Linked DNA regions of Homo sapiens: regions 1, 2 and 3 are each reported to be linked to region 4. The links are microRNA targets in miRTarBase. Many come from high-throughput screens and were not tested one by one. Region 4 holds a microRNA gene; each other region holds the end of a gene's coding sequence.
What was found. The annotated mature microRNA hsa-miR-8081 reads CUUGAGUCGUGCCUUUCUGAAUG and lies in region 4 at 1,822-1,844, shown strand. An mRNA with a match to its seed (bases 2 to 7 or 8) in the 3' UTR can be bound and repressed. Matches are read on the target gene's strand: a 7mer-m8 pairs with bases 2 to 8, a 7mer-A1 pairs with bases 2 to 7 and ends in A, and an 8mer does both.

Region 1 (3,000 bases), not on the chromosome of region 4:
TTCATGACCCTTTTTGTAAATTGGAAACCAACAGGAAAACAGGCTTCCCTATTTTGCTGAAAATGCCTAGATTTTCTTGCCATGGAAAAATGGAGCAGACAGAAGCTCAGCCTGTGGATGTTGGACTCGAGTCATGCTACCTTAAATATTGACTGCTGACTACTGTAAAGCTAATCTTCATTTCCTACACATAATCATCTATAAAGTATATTCATGATAGAGTTCTAATTTCAGCCTGGCTTCACTCCGTTCCTTTGTAAATTTCTGGGTCTTTTTTTCCTAACTTCTCTATGTGTGTGTTAGGGAAGTCAGAATCACCTTAATAGTATCTAAGAAAAAACAGTCTTTGCTGTAGTGGTAACTATATAAGGTATTCTAAGCCCATGTTTTAGTAATCATCAGAACTTATGCTGTCATAGAGCACTCCTTTCCATTTACAGGGTCAGTGAAAGCCTTAATAAGAGCTACATTTCCTGGAGCTATCTGCAGATCATTTCCTGGTTTCTTAGGAAGTTCCTGAAAGCAATTCCTTTGACTGTAGGATTTTCTCTGTCTTCCCTAGGAAAATCTGGAGAGCTGAAGAGTTGGAGCTATTCACGAGACTGAACATCACTTCCTTGTTGACTGATTGGGTGATTGATTCCTGGGAATTCAAACAAACAAATAAAAAAGCACTTTTTTCATTTTATCAGAACTGAACTTAGCTGAATAAGTTATTTTTTACTGATTGTTAAAGTTGGGAGCAGCTGCCAGAGGCCTGCAGAGTTGGTTTTTGTTTTGTTTTGTTTTGTCAACTTAATGCAAACCACAGAGATTTTCTACTTTCTGTTTTCACATGAGTTTTAATGAGGTTCTGTTGAAGCAAAGACCCCTAGACACAAAGTAATGACTTGTTAGTAGTGGAATTATAAGCAACAGGGCAGGCCTTTGCTGGAGGTATTTTGAGAGAAAGGGAGAACAATGGAAACTATTTCTTCAGATGTAGCCCTGTCTTTTGGTAAGAATTGTGCCTACTAATTTTGCAATTTAAAGGATTTCAGGAAGCTTTTTGGTTGAAAAATCTTGTTTTTTTTTTTTTAGACGTAGTCTCACTCTGTCACCCAGGCTGGAGTGCAGTGGTGCGATCTCAGCTCACTGCAAGCTCCACCTCCCGGTTTCACTCCATTCTCCTGCCTCAGCCTCCTGAGTAGCTGGGACTACAGGAGCCCGCCATCACGCCCGGCTAATTTTTTGTATTTTTAGTAGAGATGAGGTTTCGCCGTGTTAGCCAGGATGGTCTGGATCTCCTGACCTCGTGATTCGCCCGCCTTGGCCTCCCAAAGTGCTGGGATTACAGGCGTGAGCCACCACGCCCGGCCTAAAATCTTGTTATTTTAAGTTGAGCATTTTCATTCAAAATCATCCCTAAACTTCATGTTAATTTCACCTGAGAAGGACTATTTTATGCATTTTAGAGGTTGGAAGCAAAAAACAAACAAACAAACAAAAACAGTTGTTTCTACTAGGAAGGTCAAAGAAAATAAAAGTTACTCCATTTTTACTGCCACAGGATGCAGGAAGTGCTGGCCCACATCTAGGACAGCAAGGCCACCCCAGCTTAGATGAAGCTAGCTGCATAACACAAAGCTTTAAAAGTGTGGTTCACACACCACTTGTGGACCTTATTGAATTGCTGATTCGCATTCCTAGAGATTCTGATTCTGTAGGGGTAGGCTGGAGCCTAGGAACCTACCTTTTAAACTAGTTCCATAGGTGATTCTGATGTACATATAGAGTGTGACAGCCATCACTATAGAGAATAGATTGATAAATTACAACCCACGCGTCAAATCTGGCTTGCTGTCTTATTTTGTAAATAAAGTTTTATTGGAATAGAGCAACATTCACTTGTTTACATATTGTCCATGGCCGCTTTTGTGCTACAATGGCAGAGTTGAATGATTATAGAAGACCATATGGCTGGTTAAGTCCAAAATATTTACTAGCTGGCCCTTTACAGAAAAAGTTGGCTGACCCCTTCTCTAAATCAACATTTCTCCTTGGTAACTGAAACTCTATTACAGTCCTGACAATTCCAGCAAACACAGCTGTAGATAGGGTTTAAACTCAAAGATATTTAACTCTTCTTTGGGAACTTAGTCTCCATATGTTTGTTAGTTCTTGCATAATCCACAGTTTCTCTGGGTCTTCAGCCAATCAGAGAGCTCTGTAGCTCCTGAGTAGTCCATTTCTCTGGCCCTACAAGTGAGAGTGATTGGAAGCAAAGCTTATGATTTGTATGATCTTGTATCTCAAAATAGTCCTTAATGATCTAATAGATTAGTAGGCAGTCATCAGGTAGAGACTCCAAAAACCAGACTACTTTCCTAAATATCAAGAAGAAAGGCATTGCTACAGTGATTCATGAAAAGCAGCATTAATAACTTTGGCTAAAGTTTAACAAAGCTAACCACTTCCCCTCTATCAGCCAGCCATCTATGTATCTCCTCTAAATGCAGAGAAGTAAATATGTAGTGCTGTTAATACATTTTTGCTTTTTAAAGTTATGCTTTGTCCTGGCGCAGTGGCTCATGCCTGTAATCCCAGCACTTTGGGAGGCCAAGGCGGGTGGATCACCTGAGGTTAGGAGTTTGAGACCAGCCTGGCCAACATGGTGAAACCCTGTCTCTGCTAAAAATACAAAAAATTAGCCAGGCTTGGTGGCACGTGCCTGTAATGCCAGCTACTCAGGAGGCTGAGGCAGGAGAATCACTTGAACCTGGGAGGCGGAGGTTGCTGTGAGCTGAGTTCGCGCCATTGCACTCCAGCCTGGGCTACAAAAGCGAAACTGTCTAAAAAAAAAAAAAGAAAATAAATAAAGTTATGCTTTTTCCTCTATTCCTAGTTAAATCACAACAAGTTAGTAATCCATAAATGATGTGTCCTGTTTCTCTTTAGTAGAAATTATATTTTTGGCTACCAGTTAAGAAACTTGTACTCCTTTGTCCCTTATGTTACTAT
Region 2 (3,163 bases), not on the chromosome of region 4:
GGACAGAAAATCTCAAGTTGTAAAACATTCCCCCTGAGCATTTAGGTGCGGGACTTCCCTATTGGCTGCAGAGGCTGGAACTAGGAAGTAGAAATCTCTGCGCTCCCCAAACAATGAAGTTCACTCGCTTCCTATGAGTCATTAGCCACTCAACGAAGTCCTCACTTAACGTCATCAATAGGTTCTGGGAAACCGTGACCTTAAGCGAAACGACGTATAAGGAAACCAGTTTGTTTAAAGGACTGTTATTACAGGATCTGCTTGTTTTGCTTAAGTCCGTTTCCAAGCACCTATACAAAACGCTGAGGATGCACTGTGCTTTGAAGCCCAACTCCTCTTCCAGCACCGGCAGCAACCCTTGCGTCATTTGTGACTCCTTGGGAGGGGGAAGAGGGCTGTGGTCACTCAGTGCCCCATGACGAGCACATGGCCCGGCACAGGTGTTCAAGGAAAGTGAATGAGCAAGTTGAGGCCACAGACACCCGAAAACAACTCATCACAGACATGGTCTCCCTGGCTACTCTTCCTACCGGCCAGCAGACCCTGGTTCCCATGTCCTCTCCCCCAAGGAGTCCACCTGACTCCTCCAGGCTGTCAGGCACCGCTTGAGTCCCACAGCCTCTTGTGCTTTTCCCACAAGCGGCCACCCTGACTCCTTAGCTCCTCATGTTGAGGGGCCACAGGGTAGAGATGGGGCCTCTTGAGCAGATCTGTGACAACCTAAACTAGTAGTCAAGAACCTGGGCTCTAGGTCGGGCGCGGTGGCTCACGCCTGTTAATCCCAGCACTTCGAGAGGCCAAGGCAGGGGGATCTACCTGAGGTCAGGAGTTCAAGATCAGCCTGGATAACATAGTGAAACCCACGTCTCTACTAAAAATACAAAAATCAGTCAGGTGTGGTGGCACTTGCCTGTAGTCCCAGCTACTCAGGAGGCTGAGGCAGAATTGCTTGAACCCGGAAGGCGGAGGTTGCAGTGAGCTGAGATTGTGCAGCTACACTCCAGCCTGGGTGACAGAGCAAGACTCCGTCTCCAAAAAAAAAAAAGGCGGGGGGGGGGGGGCAGGTGTGGCGGCTCACACTTGTAATCCCAGCACTTTGGGAGGCCATGGCGGGTAGATTACCTGAGGTCAGGAGTTCCAGACCAGCCTGGCCAACGTGGTGAAACCGTCTCTACTAAAAATAGAACAATTAGCTGGGCAAGGTGGCAGGCGCCTGTAATCCCAGCTACTCGGGAGGCTGAGACAGGAGAATTGCTTGAACCCGGGAGGCGGAGGTTGCGGTGAGCCGAGATCACGCCATTGCACTCCAGCCAGGGATACAAGAGCAAAACTCTGTCTCAAAAAAAAGAAAAAGAAAAAAAAAGAACCTGGGGTCTTCCACAGCCCGGTTACCTGTCCAAAATGCCACTTTGGGCTCGGCATGGTGGCTCATGCCTGTAATCCCAGCACTTTGGGAGGCTGTGGCAGGAGGATCACTTGAGGTTAGGAGTTCAAGACCAGCCTTGCCAACATGGTGAAACCCCATCTCTACTAAAAATACAAAAATTAGGCTGGGTGCAGTGGCTCACGCCTATAATCCCAGCGCTTTAGGAGGCAGAGTCGGGTGATCACTTGAGGTCAGGATTTCAAGACCAACCTTGCCAACATGTTGAAACCCTGTCTCTACTTAAAAAAAAAAAAATTAGCTGGGTGTGGCAGGCGCCTGTTCAAGCAATTCTTTCCTTCAGCCTCCCAAGTAGCTGGATTACAGGCGCCTGCCACCATACCTAATTTTTGTACTTTTAATAGAGATGAGGTTTCACCATCTTGGCCAGGCTGATCTTTAACTCCTGACCTTGTAATCCACCAGCCTTGGCCTCTCAGAGTGATGGGATTACAGTCGTGAGCCACCGTGCCCGACTCTCCTTGTTTTCTTTGTATTAAAGATTATTGGCTAGGCATGGTAGCTCACACCTGTAACCTGGACACATTGGGAAGATGAGGCAGGAGGATTGCCTGAGGTCAGGAGACCACGCCTGGGCAACATAGTGAGACCTGTCTCTACAAAAACAAAAATTCAGCTGGGGGTGGTGGCTCTCGCCTGTAATCCCAGCACTTTGGGAGGCCCGGGAAGGCGGATCACTTGAGGTCAGGAGTTTGAGACCAGCCTGACCAACACAGTGAAACCCATCGATACTAAAAATACAAAATTAGCATGGCGTGGTGGTGGGTACCTGTAATCCAAGCTATTTGGGAGGCTGGGCTTGAAAAAAATAGACATCCACAAGGATGAGCCATATATCCGCCAAGGTCTGCAGCCACTAATGGCCCCAAACGACTGCCATCTCAGCTTTGCCTGCACACTGGACTCTACTGGAGGTGTAGAGACAGAGACCCCCTGCCTTCTGCTTCCACTCACCCACACCAAGCCCAGCGCGACCACTTCTGGGGAGGGTCAAAATCCAGACTGGCAATAGGTCCAGGATGTTTACTGATTTCTGTCTGGTTAAACATCCAATACCAACACATAAGGCCACACACAGTTCTTGAAACTTTAAAATCCCTCAAAAACTGTTTATTATACAAGTGAGTTTTGAGTCACGATGGGCTTATCGGTAGGATTTCTGGTAGCGAGCGCGGGCACCAGGGCCTCCAAACTTTTTGGACTCGCAGCGACGAGGGTCAGCTACCAGCAGGGTCCGGTCATACTGGATGAGGATGTCTTTGATCTCCTTCTTGGAAGCCTCATCCACATCTGGCAAGAAGAGCAGGGACGAGGATTTAGATAATCACACAGAGTCCTTGACTTGATCCCCACACACCCATCTACCTCATGGGAAGGACCCATGCTCACTCACATTTCTGGTAATAGGCCACCAGGGCTTTGGAGATGGACTGACGGATAGCTGTGAGAAAGACACACAATTAAAGGGTACAGGAGCGCTGTGAAGGCCTCCCTCCCAGAGCCACCTCCTCCATGCGCCCAGTTCCTGGGACTCACCATAAATCTGGGCCACGTGACCACCACCCTTTACACGGACACGGATGTCTACACCAGCAAATCGCTCCTTGCCGAGAAGCAGAACTGGCTCCAGCAGCTAAAGGAATGGGGAATGAACAGGGATTTAAGTTACATGCTGGGCAGCTTAGCCATCTCACTGGGCTTCTTGTTTCTGTGGCTTCT
Region 3 (3,163 bases), not on the chromosome of region 4:
AAGTGATGCTCCCACCTCAGCCTCGTGAGTCGCTAGCACTACAGACACATATTACGAAGCCTGGCTAATTATTTTTATTTTTTGTAGAAACAGGGTTTTGCCATGTTGCCTAGGCTGGTCTCAAACTCCTGGGCTCAATCTGCTCACCTTGGGCTCCCAGGGTGGTGGGATTACAGGCATGAGCCACTGCACCCGGCCCACAGATTCTTATTGAGGCCTTTGTAAGTAGGCAGTTAATGCTCTATTGCCACCATTTCCCACTGTATTTTTTATAAATACCAATTGTTTGGTCAATCGACTTCTATTTATGAAACTGGAAAAGAATAATGATGATCCCAAATGTCTAACCTCATTGCTTGCCTTTATACAGAATCCTCACTATGGATGGGCTCATTGAGGACATTAAGCATCGGCGGTATTATGAGAAGCCATGCTGCCGGCGACAGAGGGAAAGCTATGAAAGGTGCCGGCGGATCTACAACATGGAAATGGCTCGCAAGATCAACTTCTTGATGCGAAAGAATCGGGCAGATCCGTGGCAGGGCTGCTGAGGCCTGTGGGTGGGACACCCAGTGCGAAACCCTCATCCAGTTTTCTCTCCATCTCTTTTCTTTGTACAATCCCATTTCCTATTACCATTCTCTGCAATAAACTCAAATCACATGTCTGCAAGAAGGCCTCCAAATATAGAAACAATCCCATTAGTCAGCAGTGGACCCTGTCTTTTATTAAGTGAAAGAAGAAACTGAGTCTGAAAGTACTCTAGGAGTAGAATGGTATTTGCCAGGGACTGGAGGAGGGGGCAGTGAGGAGTTATTGTTTAATGGGTACAGAGTTTCAGTTTGGGCAGATGAAAAAGTTCAGGAGACGATGGCCTGGCATGGTGGCTCACGCCTGTTATCCCAACACTTTGGGAGGCTGAGGCGGGCGGCTCACTTGAGGCCAGGAGTTTGAGACCAGCTTGGCCAATGTGGTGAAACCCCATCTCTACTAAAAATACAAAAAAAAATTGGCCGGGCGTGGTGGTGCACGCCTGTAATCCCAGATACTTGGGTGGCTGAGGCAGGAGAATTGCTTGAACTGGGGAGGAAGAGGTTGCAGTGAGCCAAGATCATGCCACTGCACTCCAACCTGGGCGACAGAGTGAGACTCCATCTCAAAACAAAAAAACGGAGATGGATGATGAATGGTGATGGCGGTTGCTCAAAAAGTTGAATGTACTTAATGCCACTGAACTATACCCTTAAATGGTCACGATGGTAAATTTTGTGTTTTACTACAATAAAAACTTTTTTGAAAGTCCAGGAGAAGTAAGGAATTTTTTTTTCTTTTTTTTAAGAGGAAGTCTCGCTCTTGTCCCCCAGACTGGAGTGCAATGGTGCAGTCTAGGCTCACTGCAACCTCCGCCTCCTGGGTTCAAGTGATTCTCCTGCCTCAGCCTCCCCAGAAGCTGGGACTACAGGCACCTGCCACCACGCCCAGCTAATTTTTGTATTTTTAGTAGAGACGGGGTTTCACCATGTTGTCCAGGCTGGTCTCGAACTCCTGACCTCAGGTGATCCGCCCACCTCGGCCTCCCAAAGTGCTGGGATTATGGGCATGAGCCACCATACCTGGCTGGTAAATTTTTTTTTTTTTTTTGTAGATGGAGTCTCGCTCTGTTGCCCAGGCTGGAGGGCAGTGGGACAATCTCAGCTCACTGCAAGCTCCGCCGCCTGGGTTCACGCCATTCTCCTGCCTCAGCCTCCCCAGCAGCTGGGACTACAGGCACACGCCGCCACGCCCGGCTAATTTTTGTGTTTTTAGTAGAGATGGGGTTTATCTGTGTTAGCCAGGATAGTCTCGATCTCCTGGTCTCGTGATCCCCCTGCCTTGGCCTCCCAAAGTGTTGGGATTACAGGCGTGAGCCACTGCGCCCGGCCGGAAAATTTTTTTAATGTAGTGAAATATGTCTACCATTTCCTACCCAATTTTTTTGAATCCCCAAGCAAAATCTTACTGAGAAAGCATCTATTACTTTTTATTAAACTGTTCCATGTTAGGTAGAGAGGAGAAGATGCATGTATGTATTTGGAATAAATTCTGCTTCTGAAAACACCTATCAACCAGACTAGAGTGCTGGAATCCTTGCCCAAAGAAATTCTTAAATCTACCCTAATGTTCATTCCTGTTTTCTGTCCTTTTAGTTTTCCTAACAGAGACTAAGAGAGGGATGGTGGAGAAGAAATAAAGCAATAGATGGGTGGGACTCAGTAGATAGTAGGAAAGAGGGAATGGAGCGTTGAGAGAGAATGGCACAGAGCCAGAAATACCCACAAAGCAGTGCTTCTCAAAGTGTCAGATCAGCAGCATCAATTTCACCAGAGGGATTGCTTGAAATGCAAATTATGGGACCCTACTTTAGATCTTCGATATTGGAAATTGAGGTTGGAGCCCAGCAATCTATTTTCACAAGCCTTGCAGGTGATTCTGATGCCTGCTAGAGTTACAACCACTGCCCTTTGCAGTACTCAAAGAGACTTCAAGTGGAGGTTCCCACCATCACTGCCTCTACCCAGCAGTCACTCCTGATTATTTTACTCTTGACAGCTGCGGAAACTGACCACTGTGGGAAGACCAGCTGCTCTGCTTTTTCTCCTGCTGTTTCCTCCACCATTGGTTGGCTGACAGCCGTGTTGCTATTATTAAGAGTCGGTGCCAGGCCGGGTGCCATGGCTCACGCCTGTAATTTCAGCACTTTGGGAGGCTGAGGCGGGCGGATCACGAGGTCAGGAGTTTGAGACCAGCCTAGCCAACATGGTGAAACCCTGTCTCTACTAAAAATACAAAAAAATTAGCTGGGCGTGGTGGTAGGCGCCTGTAATCTCAGCTACCTGGGAGGCTGAGGCAGGAGAATCACTTGAACGCAGGAGGTGGAGGTTGCAGTGAGCCAAGATCGCGCCTGGCGACAGAGCAAGACTCGGTCTCTTTTAAAAGTTGGTGCTGGCCAGGCACAGTGGCTCACGCCTGTAATCCCAGCACTTTGGGAAGCCGAGGTGGGCGGATCACAAGGTCAGGCGATCGAGACCATCCTGGCTAACATGGTGAAACCCCGTCTCTACTGAAAATACAAAAAAGTTAGCGGGGCATGGTGGCGGGCGCCTGTAGTCCCAGCTATTTGGGA
Region 4 (3,163 bases):
TTAGCTTATTAAAGTCATACCACTGATTTCTCATTCTAAAATGTTCTTACAACAATGTGGTTAAGAGAATGGGCTCTGGAGTGAGAAAGTCCAAGATGTGCATCTCTGCTTTATCAGTGATTAGCTGCATGACCTAAGGAACATTATTTAATACATGGGAGCCCCACTTTTCTCATATTTCTCATCTGAAATATGAGTATAATATCTGTTATCTCAATAAATAAAATATTATTTTCAAATTGTTTATCACATTGCCTGGCACATAGTTAGTGGTTAATAAATATTAGATGTTTTATACTAAAATATGATATTAAGGTTCCTTCTAAGCCCATGAGTCTATGATTGAAGCCAAATTATTAGTCCAGAACTCACTGGTATCCTGGGCAGGAGGGGGAAACCAACAATTTCTTATTGAGCAGTTGCTATGTGCTTGGCTATTTAAAATTCATTGTCTGCTTATCTTCATAGCACTCCCAAAACAGTTTATTAGTAATCCCTTTTAAACATGAGGCCATTATTAGTTTATTAGTAATCCCCTGTAAACATGAGGCTACAAAGTTTAAGTCATGTGCCTAAGTTACAGAGAGAGTAGCTTGCAGAGCTGGGACTAATCACCTCCGTGTGTTAGAATCTGAGCTGTACAGAAGGCTTTGTCCTTAATCTCTACACTGCTTATGAGTAAACCCCCGCATTACGTCTTTCACTGGAGATAGCACTTTTCTGTTGCTTCTCCTTCTGCCAAGATGGTGTTTTACATGGATGCTAAAACCAGGACTGGAGATCTGTTGCCTGTACAGAGCCCACAAAAGCCTAAACAAAAGAGTGGTTTGAAGGTCCATCTCTGCTTGGTGGTCTATAGTTTTTCAGTATTAATAATCAGTAGAGAACCGTTTCTAGAAAAACTGCAATGTTCCACTGAGTTCTGGATTAATGGTTTAACTGTAGTTATGGGGTTAGAAGAGACCTTAGGATCCTATCCAAAAGTCTGCTGAATTGATTAAAGCCAAACATTTAGAAAGATATGGCTTCATAGACAGTTTTCTTTAGGAGGTTCCACACCATGCTTTGAAAGTAAACCTCACCTTGTCTTAAAGATTCAGTGTTTTAAACCTGATACCCGAGAATCTCAACTTCCCTTTTACGGAATGGCTGAGACTTATCTGTAGAGGAGGCACACCCAGTTAACTCAAATGCTCATCTGGAATAATTGCTCACAAGAAAGTGAGAATTGGATGATAAAGTTGAAATAACCATAACCGTTGAAGAAAGACGGCACTTCTCATTAATAAAATCATCAGGGAAGGCAAAACGTTTGAGAGGTAAACCCCAAATATCCAGAACACAGACCTAGAAGAAAAGAGGGTACAGGAAGTCCAGGAGATCTTCAAATGTGCCATTCTGATTTTTGCAGTGGTCAGTGATTACAGGGCGCATCGCAAGAGGTTGAAAGCTGAAGAAAACAGCGGGAGTCCATTAAAAGTTATCTGACGGGCTCAGCTTTAAAGATCATGAAAAAGAGATGGAAAGAAGGGCATGTAACCACAGAATCAAATGGGAAAATGGTACAGAGGTGCCCAGAAAATCAATAGAGGAAGTTCTAAGGGGATCACCCTTGCTGGTTTATGCCTTCATCCAATTGTTTAGCAACATCGATTGAACATCTGGCTCTACCAGGAACTGAACAAAGACTTTCCCTCAAGTGTGAGCTTGAGCGTTAGGTTCTTCAGTTCCTTCTGATTCCCTGTGATCCAGCTCGTGCTTATTGTCTTTATTTTCTGAGTCTTGCCTCTATGGCCCCCCTCCTCTCTGAAAGCAAGGCCACTTGAGTCGTGCCTTTCTGAATGAAGTCAATGTCTGTGCCAGTCAATGCACAATTGTCGCTTATGACCTTCCTGAGGTTTCCTGTTTCCTCCTAATACATTAGAAGAACAAATCAATAAAGTCTGTGTCCCAGTACCTTGGGTAACTGCCATCTTCATGGTTACATCACTATCCAGGGTGACTGTGAAGCAGTGGGGCGCTTAACCCCAGGAGCAGTGGGAGGACTGGGTTGGGCTCATTGGAGTCTCACACAGGGATGGTGAAATGGCTCCTGGCTGATATAGAAGCACAAGACTCCCCCACCACATGGTGATTTGTATTCAGCAGCAGCCCCCTCCCTTGGCACCAGGCAGATGGGTCCCCAGGAGAGATCCAAGGAAGAAGGAAGGGGCTGTTGTCCTTGACAAGGAAACGATTGATGTCTCTGCTTTCTCACCCTCTTTAAATTGAGATGGGGACAAGATTAAAAGTTCAGGCAGGAAGCCAAGTGGTGATTTACAACACTGAGCAACCAGCCTAGTGTGTGAGGAAGCCTGTGGTCCATCTCTCAAGAAATGAGCTGCCTGGATATTTGAAATGTTCACTATTCTTGCTAGAATCTGGACATTAAGGCCCTGTCATGACAATAATAATGACAAAAATAGCAAGGAAAAATAAATAATAATAAACCCGATATATTGTATGTTATATGCAATGTCCTGTATTTTATAATTGTTATCTCTAAATTCTTACAATGATAGTGAAAGGCAGGTACAATTACCCCCATTTTATAGATAAGGTAACTGAGGCTCAGAAAAGTTAAGAAACTTGATTGAGGTAACACAGTTAGCAAGGAGTAGAACCAGGATTCCAAGCCAAGTAGCCCTGGCTCCAAAGCATGTACTATTCTGTTGCACTGCATTGGCTGATGCATAACGACATGGTTGGCTTTTCTCAGGACATAGATACAGTTGAAGCACAGTCTCAGGACACAGATACAGTTGAAGCACAGTCTCAAGTTGGTGTGACCACCTGCTTAGTTAAGGGTTCTCTGGGGTGTATGAAACTAGGCCAGGCCTCTTGTTGCTTAGGTGCCAAGGGTGATGGAGCTCACTCCCTCTGTCCTATGACACTGCAGACTTTGCTGTAGGAGCCTTTGCAGTCCCTTGTCCTGCCTTTGGCTTTGTGTCATGTAGTGGAACCTCTTTCAGTTGTAAAGTTTTCACAGGGAGAGCAAAGCCAAAAATGGGGTTAGGAAAGGGGTATCAAGAACAGGCACTGAGAAATGTGTCTGACACTGACATCTCTAGCAAAAGTAAGGACAGTGGTATCAAGGTAGGTCAAGGTCAGGTATCAAATGGAC

Region 1: miRTarBase lists BCL2L15 as a target of hsa-miR-8081. Seed matches in the 3' UTR shown: 7mer-A1 at 2,105-2,111.
Region 2: miRTarBase lists RPS16 as a target of hsa-miR-8081. Seed matches in the 3' UTR shown: 8mer at 2,572-2,579.
Region 3: the mRNA of MRPS21 is a reported target of hsa-miR-8081. Seed matches in the 3' UTR shown: 7mer-A1 at 652-658.

The regions. Positions count from the first base shown.
Region 1 is chr1:113,878,703-113,881,702 of GRCh38, reverse strand. BCL2L15 (BCL2 like 15) reads left to right here. Exons shown (of 4, transcript NM_001010922.3): 4 at 563-3,000. The coding sequence ends at 580. All of the region lies in intron 3 of AP4B1-AS1 (AP4B1 antisense RNA 1), which reads right to left. Among named protein-coding and RNA genes, the nearest start is that of BCL2L15, 7.4 kb to the left of the region's middle.
Region 2 is chr19:39,430,685-39,433,847 of GRCh38, forward strand. RPS16 (ribosomal protein S16) reads right to left here. Exons shown (of 5, transcript NM_001020.6): 3 at 2,981-3,077; 4 at 2,838-2,885; 5 at 2,453-2,734. The coding sequence ends at 2,589. Among named protein-coding and RNA genes, the nearest start is that of RPS16, 3.7 kb to the right of the region's middle. RefSeq lists an enhancer at 760-879.
Region 3 is chr1:150,307,678-150,310,840 of GRCh38, forward strand. It overlaps MRPS21 (mitochondrial ribosomal protein S21), which reads left to right. Exons shown (of 3, transcript NM_031901.6): 3 at 371-1,302. The coding sequence ends at 551. Among named protein-coding and RNA genes, the nearest start is that of PRPF3, 12 kb to the right of the region's middle.
Region 4 is chr9:106,599,169-106,602,331 of GRCh38, forward strand. MIR8081 (microRNA 8081) reads left to right here and starts at 1,760; the gene lies at 1,760-1,854. The region is part of intron 8 of LOC107987108 (a long non-coding RNA gene); the gene reads left to right.